3 linked regions of the Homo sapiens genome follow. The protein of the gene in region 2 purifies or fractionates together with the protein of the main gene of each other region. This does not show direct contact. Each region holds a gene or a part of one and is shown on either strand. Other genes may lie near its edges.

What was found.
Region 1: the proteins of DNAJB14 (region 2) and PLS3 purify together in Homo sapiens (affinity purification with mass spectrometry, with the first as the bait; one large-scale study listed by BioGRID). This does not show direct contact.
Region 3: the proteins of DNAJB14 (region 2) and ST13 purify together in Homo sapiens (affinity purification with mass spectrometry, with the first as the bait; one large-scale study listed by BioGRID). This does not show direct contact.

Annotation. Positions count from the first base shown.
Region 1 is NC_000023.11:115,567,667-115,571,323, reverse strand, and holds part of PLS3 (plastin-3), read right to left. Parts: intron 1-3,657. UniProt on the Homo sapiens protein: Actin-bundling protein.
Region 2 is NC_000004.12:99,940,017-99,943,673, forward strand, and holds part of DNAJB14 (dnaJ homolog subfamily B member 14), read right to left. Parts: intron 1-3,657. UniProt on the Homo sapiens protein: Acts as a co-chaperone with HSPA8/Hsc70; required to promote protein folding and trafficking, prevent aggregation of client proteins, and promote unfolded proteins to endoplasmic reticulum-associated degradation (ERAD) pathway.
Region 3 is NC_000022.11:40,825,569-40,829,225, reverse strand, and holds part of ST13 (hsc70-interacting protein), read left to right. Parts: intron 1-1,996; coding exon 1,997-2,130; intron 2,131-2,559; coding exon 2,560-2,688; 3' UTR 2,689-3,657. UniProt on the Homo sapiens protein: One HIP oligomer binds the ATPase domains of at least two HSC70 molecules dependent on activation of the HSC70 ATPase by HSP40. Stabilizes the ADP state of HSC70 that has a high affinity for substrate protein.

The sequences.
Region 1 (3,657 bases), on a different chromosome or scaffold from region 2:
CTGGTTTCGAACTCCTGAGCTGAAGTGATTTGCCCGCCTTGGCCTCCCAAAGTGTTGGGATTACACGCGTAAACCACTGTGACGGGTCTTGGCTAGTTCTCCACATATCCTCACAAAAGAATAAATTAAATGGCAGGGTTCAGTGGCTCACGCCTGTAATCCCAACACTTTGGGAGGCCGAGGTGGGTGGTCATGAGGTTAGGAGATCAAGACCATCCTGGCTAACACAGTGAAACCCCGTCTCTACTAAAAATACAAAAAATTAGCAGGGCATGGTGGTGGGCACCTGTAGTCCCTGCTACTCGGGAGGCTGAGGCAGGAGAATCGCATGAACCCGGAGGCGGAGGTTGCAGTGAGCTGAGATCGCGCCACTGCACTCCAGCCTGGACGACACAGTGAGACTCCGTTTCAAAAAAAAAAAAAAAAAAAGAATAAATTAAACGATAAACAGGTTTCTGAGCTAAGCGAAGAAGCTTCTTCAACCTGAAACATGGCTAGAATCCTTCACATTCACAATGAAAAACAATAAAAGGAGTGTTTTTCCAATACCATTAAATAAAACACAAAAAACCCCACTAATTTCTAAAATCTTGCCAGCCTGGGCAACATGGGGAAATCCCATCTCTACTAAAAAACAAACTACAAAAAAAAGTTAGCCAGGCATGGTAGTACACGCCTGTAATCCCAGCTACTCGGGAGGCTGAGGCACGGAGATCGCTTGAGCCCCGGGAAGTCAAGGTTGCAGTGAGCTGAGATCGCACAGTTGCACTCCAGCCTGGGCGACAAAGCAAGACTCTGTCCAAAAAAAAAAAAAAAAAAAGGAAGGTAGGAAGGTACTCAAATTAGAGAAAAAGAGGTAGATATAGATGCCTGACAAAAATCATCTAAGGCAACATTAATCAACCTGTAAATGAAAATACTTATTGAGCACCTACCATATGCTAGTTGCTTTATAAGTGTTCTCATATAATAATTATGAGAACAAAGTGAAAAGTGAGTGTATTATCTTCATTTTATTCATGGGGTAACTGAGGTTCAGAGAGTTAAGAAACCTCCTCAATGCCACAGAGATATAAAATGGGAGAGCTGGCCCAGGCGCGGTGGCTCATGCCTGTAATCCCAGCACTTTGGGAGGCCAACGCAGGTGGATCACGAGGTCAAGAGTTCAAGACCAGCCTGGCCAAGACGGTGAAACCCCATCTCTACTAAAAATACAAAAATTAGCCGGGCACAGTGGCAGGAGCCTATAATCCCAGCTACTCACAAGGCTGAGGCAGGAGAATCGCTTGAACCTGGGGGATGGAGGTTGCAGTGAGCCGAGATTGTGCCACTGTACTCCAGCCTGGGCGACAAGGTGAGGCTCTGTCTCTAAACAAATAAATAAATAATAAAATGCGAGAGCTATTGGAACCCATACTTTATGCTAAAATCCATTCTGACTGTGCAACATAGCATGTAAATGATGCCCCTGAAAAGAAAAGAAAGGTAGTGAGAATGTGTTGTTGGGTGAAAGGAACCTTCCAAGTCACTTCTGGGTCATAATAGAATTCCCAGACCAATAAAGTCTTTGGTGAGTGAGGCTAGTGAACTGGAGGAAAGAGAAAAACACCATGGAAGGGTCTGTGAAATGGCATGGGTTAAGTTTCAGGAGGGATATGTAATGTACAATGAGCCATTTAAATACACAAAATATTTGTAAATTCAAGTGCTTGTAATTTAAGCAATCGCCATATACTGAAACCAGGCACAAATTAAGTGACAGCATCAGAATTTTTACTATTATTGGACCTATGTTTAGTTATATTATTTAAGCAACCTGAATGAAATGTAAAACTCTGAGTTTAACTGTAGTTTATTGAGTGATATCAAAGTACTTTAAGAAACTAATAGCCTTGAGATAAAAGGGCATATCAGCAAATAGTCATTTAGCCAACACCAGGATTAAATGTTTCTTTAGGATACTGAATGTTCATAGGCACAAATAAGCTTTGTATACTTGAACTGAGTTTTATAATAATATTAAACATAAAGGCTTCTTAAAAACAAACGTGTCTCCCTTCCCCCATTAACAGTTCCGTTTCAAAAAACAGAACTTCCTATGATTGTACACAGCACAGAATCCTACCTCATCCTGCTCTGCACCTGCTAACTAGATCAGAGAAAACCAAAATACTTCCAAGACATATACTTTACCTAAACAAGTTCCAGTTTAGAGTCACATATGATACAATACACTATATAAAGAATGGCCTTTTCTTTTTTCTTCTTCTTTTTTTTTTTTTTTTTTTGAAACGGAGTCGTGCTCTGTTGCCCGGGCTGGAGTGCAGTGGTGCAATCTTGGCTCACTGCAACCTTCACCTCCTGGGTTCAAGCGATTCTCCTGCCTTAGCCTCCCAAGTAGCTGGGATTACAGGCGTGCGCCACCATGCTCAGCTAGTTTTTTTGTATTTTTAGTAGAGACGGAGTTTTGCCATGTTGGCCAGGCTGGTCTTGAACTCCTGACCTCAAGTGATCTGCCTGCCTTGGCCTTCCAAAGTATTGGGATTACAGGCCTGAGCCACCATGCCCAGCCTTCTTTTTTTAAATGCCACTGAAATCAAGGCTATCTTTTTGTTTAAGCCAATGTTTAAATTTCAGGGACTATCAAAGGAATTCATCTTTAAAACATTCTTGGTGACTTCTAAAAAATGATAGAGTGCAAAATGATGTTCGATCAAGAATGCTTACTGAAGCATTATCTGTAAGATATGGAAACAAATGTTCAACAACTTGGAATTAGTGAAATAAATTATGAAACAGCCATTATATAAAATATACTGCAGTGATTTTAAACATTTTTAAAAATATTTGATCACTTGGAAACATGTTTATAATGTAATAAATGAAAAGAATGGGATATAGTGTTATTCCAATTTTTAAAAATTTCTCTTCCTACATATAAAATAAACATAAAAATATGAGCATTTAAAATTATAGTTACCTTGAATTTTTCTAATCCAAAGCAAAGTGATTGAAAACATCTTTAAAGTACACACTACACAAGACACTTTCCCAGTAGATTAATTCATACATGTTGAATAGTATAGCAATAGGATGTGCTCTAGGGACAATTTCGTATCATTTTCACCTCTGAGCAAACTCTTTGCACCCTATAATGGTGATTCTTCCTGATCTGAAACACAAGCCCCAAAATGTTAAAATGAACAACAAGAAATGGCAAAAATGGGAACATTCAAGCAAGTTAAGAAATATAGAAAAAAAGCTTGAAAATTACATTCATCTATGAATGAAAGCGTTATTTTCAGTGTCAACAGCAGAATGTCAATCTGAGTGCAACACGATGTAATTAGAGCTTATAATGTGGAACACAATAATATGAATATTCAAAACTATTATACGGCCCTAACAAATTTTATTTTACAGAAAGTAAAAACTTATATTATATATCACGTAAAACTTTATATAATATACATATGCACACATAAGTGTATATATACTCGTGTGTGTATGAATATCACAACTCAAGGGAATCAGACTTGTATTTTCAATGAACTGGACAGAGTATGAATGGGCGACAGAGTGAGAACCTGACTCAAAAAAAAAAAAAAAAAAAAGAAGAAGAAAAGAAAAGAAAATCCAAGTTAATAGCTTTGAAGG
Region 2 (3,657 bases):
GGAGTTTTAACATAATCTGCATGTAATTTAGTATATTCCATATTAAAGACCAATGAAAAAGTTAATATAGAATTTAAAATATTTATGTTGATAATCCAAAAAGGAAGAACTGAGATCTATTTTTATTCTTAAGTTTCTGTTGCACTCCTATATAATGTCCACCATTAGCTGAATTGAATATCAGAACACATGATTTGAAAAACAAATAGATTTTTTCTTTTTCACAAAATACAAATAGCTTTTATTTGTGTGATTATACAAACATGTATGTTCAGCTCATTAAAAAACATAACAGGCCAGGCGTGGTGGCTCATGCTTGTAATCCCAGCACTTTGGGAGGCTGAGGCAGGTGGATCACTTGAGGTCAGGAGTTTGAAACCAGCCTGGTCAACATGGTGAAACCCCGTCTCTACTAAAAACACAAAAATAAGCTGGTGTCGTGACACACGCCTGTAGTCCTAGCTACTCGGAGGCTGAGGCAAGATAATCGCTTGAACCCAGGAGGCGGAGGTTGCGGTGAGCTGAGATTGTGCCACTGCACTCCAGCCTGGGCGACAGAACGAGACACTGTCTCAAAAATAAATAAATAAATAAAATAACAAAGTAAAAATCACTTATAAATCCCCTTCCAACCCTCCCCCAAATCCCCCCCAAAAAATCACTATAGCCTTTTGGTTACTCTAGTTAGCTAGCTGTCTAGCTTTTTAGACATTATTAAATTAAAAAAATATAATAATCTACCTGTTTTTAGCTTAATTTTCTTCAATTGTTGACATATTAGAGATATCACCTTATAGCAATAAACACAGGTCCATGTCATCATTTTTAATAGGTGCATAATTTATGAATGCAATGAATTTAATCAGTTTCCACTAATGGACATTTATACGCTTTCCAAATTTTTGCTACAGAGACAATCCCTATATATATATATATTTTTTTTTTGGAACACTTGGGCTGATTATAGAAAAGCTTCATTTGTGAATATATTAATATAGAAGGCCTTATGGCTATAATATTTTCATTTAGTTATTTATTTAACAAATTATCTTTATTGAAGAGAGTAAAATTAAATAAACAGCTATCATTCCAGAAAATCCAGGCCCATAGATGTCACAAATATATGTAAAATACTGTTAGGCATCATGGGAGTAAAAAAGATAATTAAGATTAAAATAGTTCCTGACCGCTAAGGTATTTTAAATGTAGGAGAGAGACAGCTATATACACAGGCAATGTAAGGGATGAAGTCAGCAAGGCAGAAGAACTAAATGTTAACTAAGCATGGAATGAGTAGTTGAATCCAAATTAATATTACTCCTAATTTAAAGCAATTATCTTATGCTCAAATAATTACTTTAACAAATGACAGAAGAGACAAACATACTATCAACTCCAAGGTACTATTCAAGTTTTTTCCTATAGAAATAATACATGACATGCTTACAGCACTTAAGATAATAAAATATCCTCACGATAAGCCTGCGAAGATTACAAATGAGAAAGCTGAGGCTCAGGAAAGGAAGAGGTAATGACAGAAATGGAATTATTGTGTCATATACCAGATAGATACTTCATGTTTCCCCTAGAAGGTAAGCTCCATGAGGACAAGGACTCTGTCTTACTATCCACTGAATTCCCAGTTCTTAGAATATTGTCTGGGACAGAAAAATGTATATTCAGTAAAAATTTGTTGAATAAATCAAACTCCATTTTATAGATGAGGAAATTGAGGTTCGGAAAGATTAAGCTATATATCCAAGGTCACATCATTATTAAATTAAGATTCAAACCCTGAATCAGTATTCTTTCTTCAACTGTAATATCTGAAATAATTTGGCTACTAGCTGAAATTTGGAAATCATTTTTGTAACACTTCAGTTGGTGCTATAGAAATAATTGTTTTGAATGTATAATTTGTACTTGTCACTAAATTTCAATTAAGTCAGAAACACAAAAGACTGAAATTATCTTAAAAAGAATATGTTGGATAATACTCCAGATGTATAATGACAATTTTAAAAGCTACTTTTTAAACCATTTTAAGTAAGACAAAAAGAGACAGAACTTTGTATTTTTTATTAGATATAAATTTTAAAATAATGTAGCAAAAAATTAGGAAGAAAAAGGACTGTTTAAATTGCTATTGTGCAGATAGATGCTGCAAATTATATACTATTCAATACATAATTTGGATTATCATACTTATCCGTTCATTACAGTAGATGAAGAATGGCCTTTTTTGAAGCTGTAAGCCACCAATTGATTCAAATTACTACAGTGTTCCTGAAAACAATAAAAATGCTTTTCTCTTAAAAAAAAAAATCTACAAACTATTTCCCAATTATTATGAAATTGCAATGCAAAGCATTAAAACAGATTGTACCCCTCTCTGAAAATCCAGAACATATCAATAACTCAATAAATGTACAGTTTATTCAGAAACTACAGTTACTGAGTTCTGCTTACTGACATTTTTTCTAGAATATTTATATTTTCTATGTGGTAGCTATTCATATATATCAATACTTTAAAATATTTGAAAGTTGTACAACTGAATTCACTTAGAAGTCCACTGCAATAAGTAAACTGTAAAATAATATTCTCAACTAAAAACATGGAAAGAAACAATATCCTAGATCCATTTGGGGATTAAGTTTTTTGTCAAGAAAAACTCTTGCCAATTTCTGAAAGTGTCTTATGTATCAGACTTCCTACCTGGCAAAAATAAAATTTTAAGAGGACAAAAATCCTGGAATCTAGCAGGAATTTAGTCTCATGTTTTACCATGTAAGAATAATGGAAATCAAAATGTGATCTTTTCTTTTGCCTCTCTTAGTTTAAGCATATCCAGACGAACATTCAGTCAACTTTCTGAGTTATAAGAATTTGGTGGTGGACTAGTATAAGTGAAATTCAGGGCTAAAATTTTAAAATCTAATTGTAACCAATAGCTTCGACTTCCTTCTATATGAAATATTTTATCAGGATCTCACACAAATGTCCTAGATCTTTCTCTCTCCTGAATTCTTAAATTGTACCAATAAACATCTTCTAGAATGTTCTATATAAAATACACTTCTCTGAGTACTGGCATATAACTTTATTTCAGCTCACATAAATCCTGTGATGACATCTTCACTTTACATATAACTAAAGAAGGCTCAGAGGAGTTAAGTAATTTGTCACTGGTGAAAAAGGAGTCAGAGAAAACATCTGCATCTGAACTAAGGTTTTTGGACTACACAGTTATCCCCTATCACTTTATTTGGTAATCACATACTGCCTTACATTTGTACTACCAACTTTCACCCTTACATTTCTTAATTTTTCCAACATTCATGTCCTTAAGAGCAACAAACTGTGTTGTGCTTTGGTATCTTATAATATCTTTTAGGAGATTTATTCAAATTGTTTGCATGACAGAAGCATGATAGTGTGTACATTTGGGTGGGTTTTAAGAATTCTCAGAGCTTCACACTTGTAAAATGGGGATGACACCAAAATTAATTGAGTGCTTACTGTTAAATGCTTTACCTGTATTAACCCATTTAATCCTCACAACAGCACTATGAGATCAGTACATTGTCTCCATTTTACAGACGAAAAAGCTAAAGGCTAGAGAGGTTCTCTACCCTGCTCAAAAATAAGGTTACA
Region 3 (3,657 bases), on a different chromosome or scaffold from region 2:
AATGGTAACTAGCTTTCTCTTAAGGAAAGTTTTTAGAGGCTACGTATGCTTATATGTCACTGGTTAGAACTTAGTTGCATGATCCGATGCTAGAAAATCTAGCCTTTATTCTGAAAGAGTATGTGCACAGCAACAGAAAACAAACCTAGAACAAATATTGAGGATGACCTGCTGTTTGAAGAAAAAGCAAGAAATTAAATTTAGCTCATAGTTTACTTCCTATGTAAAATATAAATAATCTTATTGTCAGATATCTTTGTTTTAGAAAGTGACTGCTAATGTTGGGCTAGTACTAGAGAGAATTTTCTGTTATGTACATTTTATTTAGATTTGACAAGCTTTGGGTCAGTAATTTCGTTACGGGTAGGCACTAATTTTTCAAAGCTTTGGGATAAGTAGGGGCAGCAAGAGAAACTAGAAGTTGTTTTATGGTCCCCTTAGATTTCTTCATCTCTGATTGTTAGTTATTAATGGCCATATTTTAATTAACTGTGGAAGCAGGTAAAAATGACTTTATCATGTGTTTCCTTCTTTAAAACGGCTTTACTTACAGTGACCCTTTGTAGAATACATTAATGTTGTCTTTCTCTATATTATTTTTTTTTTTATTATTGAGACAGAGCCTCGCTCTGTCGCCCAGGCTGGAGTGCAGTGGCGTGATCTTGGCTCACTGCAAGCTCCGCCTGCCGGGTTCACGCCATTCTCCTGCCTCAGCCTCCCGAGTAGCTGGGACTACAGGCGCCTGCCACCACGCCCGGCTAATTTTTTTTTTTTTTTGTATTTTTAGTAGAGACGGGGTTTCACCGTGTTAGCCAGGATGGTCTCGATCTCCTGACCTCGTGATCTGCCCGCCTCGGCCTCCCAAAGTGCTGGGATTATAGGCTTGAGCCACCACGCCCAGCCATCTTTCTCTATATTATTAATTGTAATTTTAGAATATCTCCAGTAGACATACAGGTTTATGATATTGAAGAACAGAGTAGATTATTTGGGTTTATAATCGAACAAATTATACTGAGAGAATAAAATCCTTTTTGCTAGAGCATTATTCTCTGTAAAGAAGCACCAGGAATTCTTGTTAAAAATCCAGGTTTCCAGTTTCACTTTCAGAGAATTTTTATTTTATTTGAAATGGAAATGAAAAATCAACAGATAAGCCTTTTAAGGTCGTCCTTAACTGAAGGAAGATCTATGCTAGAAGAGTATAGTTGAAACAAAAACCTAAACTAAACTCGTATGAATTAATTTTAAATTGAAACAGACAAATATTCAAGAATGGAGAGTTGAAAGATGATCAAAATGACTAGCTTTATAATCTAAGATAATTATACAATTTATAATTATCTAAGGAACTGTTAGATGACTCTTTGCTTTTAAGGCGAGATTAGTCTTTTTTAACAGTGTTATTACTAGAAAAAAGTTGCTGAGCATGGTGGCTCACACCGGTAATCCCAGCACTTTGGGAGGTTGAGGGAGGCAGGCAGGTCACCTGGGGTCAGGAGTTCAAGAGCGGCCCGGCCAACTTGATATAAAAATATAAAACATATTTATAAAAATAAAAAATATATTTATAAAAATATAAAAATTAGGCATAGTGGTGCGTGCCTGTAGTCTCAACTACTCAGAAGGCTGAGGCAGGAGAATTGCTTAAACCCGGGAGGCAGAGGTGGCAGTCAGCCAAGATGGCACCACTGCATTCTAGCCTGGGCGACAGAGCAAGACTCCGTCTCAAAACAAACAAAAATAAAAAACAGTGTTATTACTAGAAAAAAGTTAATCCAGGAGGTAGCAAAGTCTGATTTACAGCCTTGTTTTTAAAGAGATAATTAGAAGCTATAACTTATGTCTTGTTGCAGTCTGGTTAGAATTTTCAGACTCTTCAGACTACTTTGTGCTTAGTGGCACCCATATTCTTTGAACCTGTACTTTTTGTGGATGAAATACTGTGTCAGAATATTTGGGAGTATGATTAGTGTCTATTCATTTTTTATTACAGGTGGCTTTCCTGGGGGAATGCCTGGTAATTTTCCCGGAGGAATGCCTGGAATGGGAGGGGGCATGCCTGGAATGGCTGGAATGCCTGGACTCAATGAAATTCTTAGTGATCCAGAGGTTCTTGCAGCCATGCAGGTAAGACTTGGAAGAAAAACTTTGGACTTTGTATCATTAAGGCAATTCTTTCATAATTCTGTGTGGAGACAAAGGTTACTCTCATAGCTATTTTTTATTTATCACAGTTACCAAATAGCTAATTATGCAAGAGTGACATTTATTTTCTTTATGCAGAGTGAGTAACTTAAATTTTTAAAACTAGGAAATACTTAGCAATCGGCAATTATATCCAGTTGTCCTTTTCTTTGTATCAAAATTGTGCTTTTTTCATCATACAGTTCAAATGACTTAATTCAGCTTGATTTTGATACTTCAAGCACTCATCTAAACCCCATTTAACTTAACTATCACCAAATTACAGGTCTAAATAAGAGATGGAATTTAGGATAATAAACTTACTGACCCAGTAGGACACTTTTTAAATACTAATGAACCCTTTCTTTTCAGGATCCAGAAGTTATGGTGGCTTTCCAGGATGTGGCTCAGAACCCAGCAAATATGTCAAAATACCAGAGCAACCCAAAGGTTATGAATCTCATCAGTAAATTGTCAGCCAAATTTGGAGGTCAAGCGTAATGTCCTTCTGATAAATAAAGCCCTTGCTGAAGGAAAAGCAACCTAGATCACCTTATGGATGTCGCAATAATACAAACCAGTGTACCTCTGACCTTCTCATCAAGAGAGCTGGGGTGCTTTGAAGATAATCCCTACCCCTCTCCCCCAAATGCAGCTGAAGCATTTTACAGTGGTTTGCCATTAGGGTATTCATTCAGATAATGTTTTCCTACTAGGAATTACAAACTTTAAACACTTTTTAAATCTTCAAAATATTTAAAACAAATTTAAAGGGCCTGTTAATTCTTATATTTTTCTTTACTAATCATTTTGGATTTTTTTCTTTGAATTATTGGCAGGGAATATACTTATGTATGGAAGATTACTGCTCTGAGTGAAATAAAAGTTATTAGTGCGAGGCAAACATAACTCATTTGAGGATAAAGTTTGTGTTGGATATGTGGTTCCTGATGCATTTTGACTTGTCTTTTTAAATGCTTTATCTTTTTCTTTAAAGATTTATTTCAATAAAACTAATTGGGACCACCCGTATTTCAGTAGGACCTGGGTAGGGATTGGAAGTACTTGGCAGGGCAGCAGCAATCTTGCTGTGTTTGATATAACATGCATCCTTGGGCAGGTTGCCCTTAAATCTTACACTGTGGTGAAGGGATGTTTTTTTTGTAATGCTGCAGTAGAGTTGGAGTACTTAGTTCTCTTGTTGTCCAGTATATCTAATAAGTGTTTTTCATATTATTTCCACGTAAGGGAAATAAGGTAGTACTTTTCTTTTTATATTTCTATGCTTAAAATTCTCTTTCCTAGTCAAAAATTGCCCAAATCTGTGTTTGCTTTCTGCTTGCTACATTTGTCTCCCTTACTTTTCTTGAGCTAAAGACAGGCTTTTTCCACCGGCATCATCACTGCTATCATCATTAACAGCGTAATTATACAAGCATATTTAATGCTGAGTTTAATTTAATATGTAAT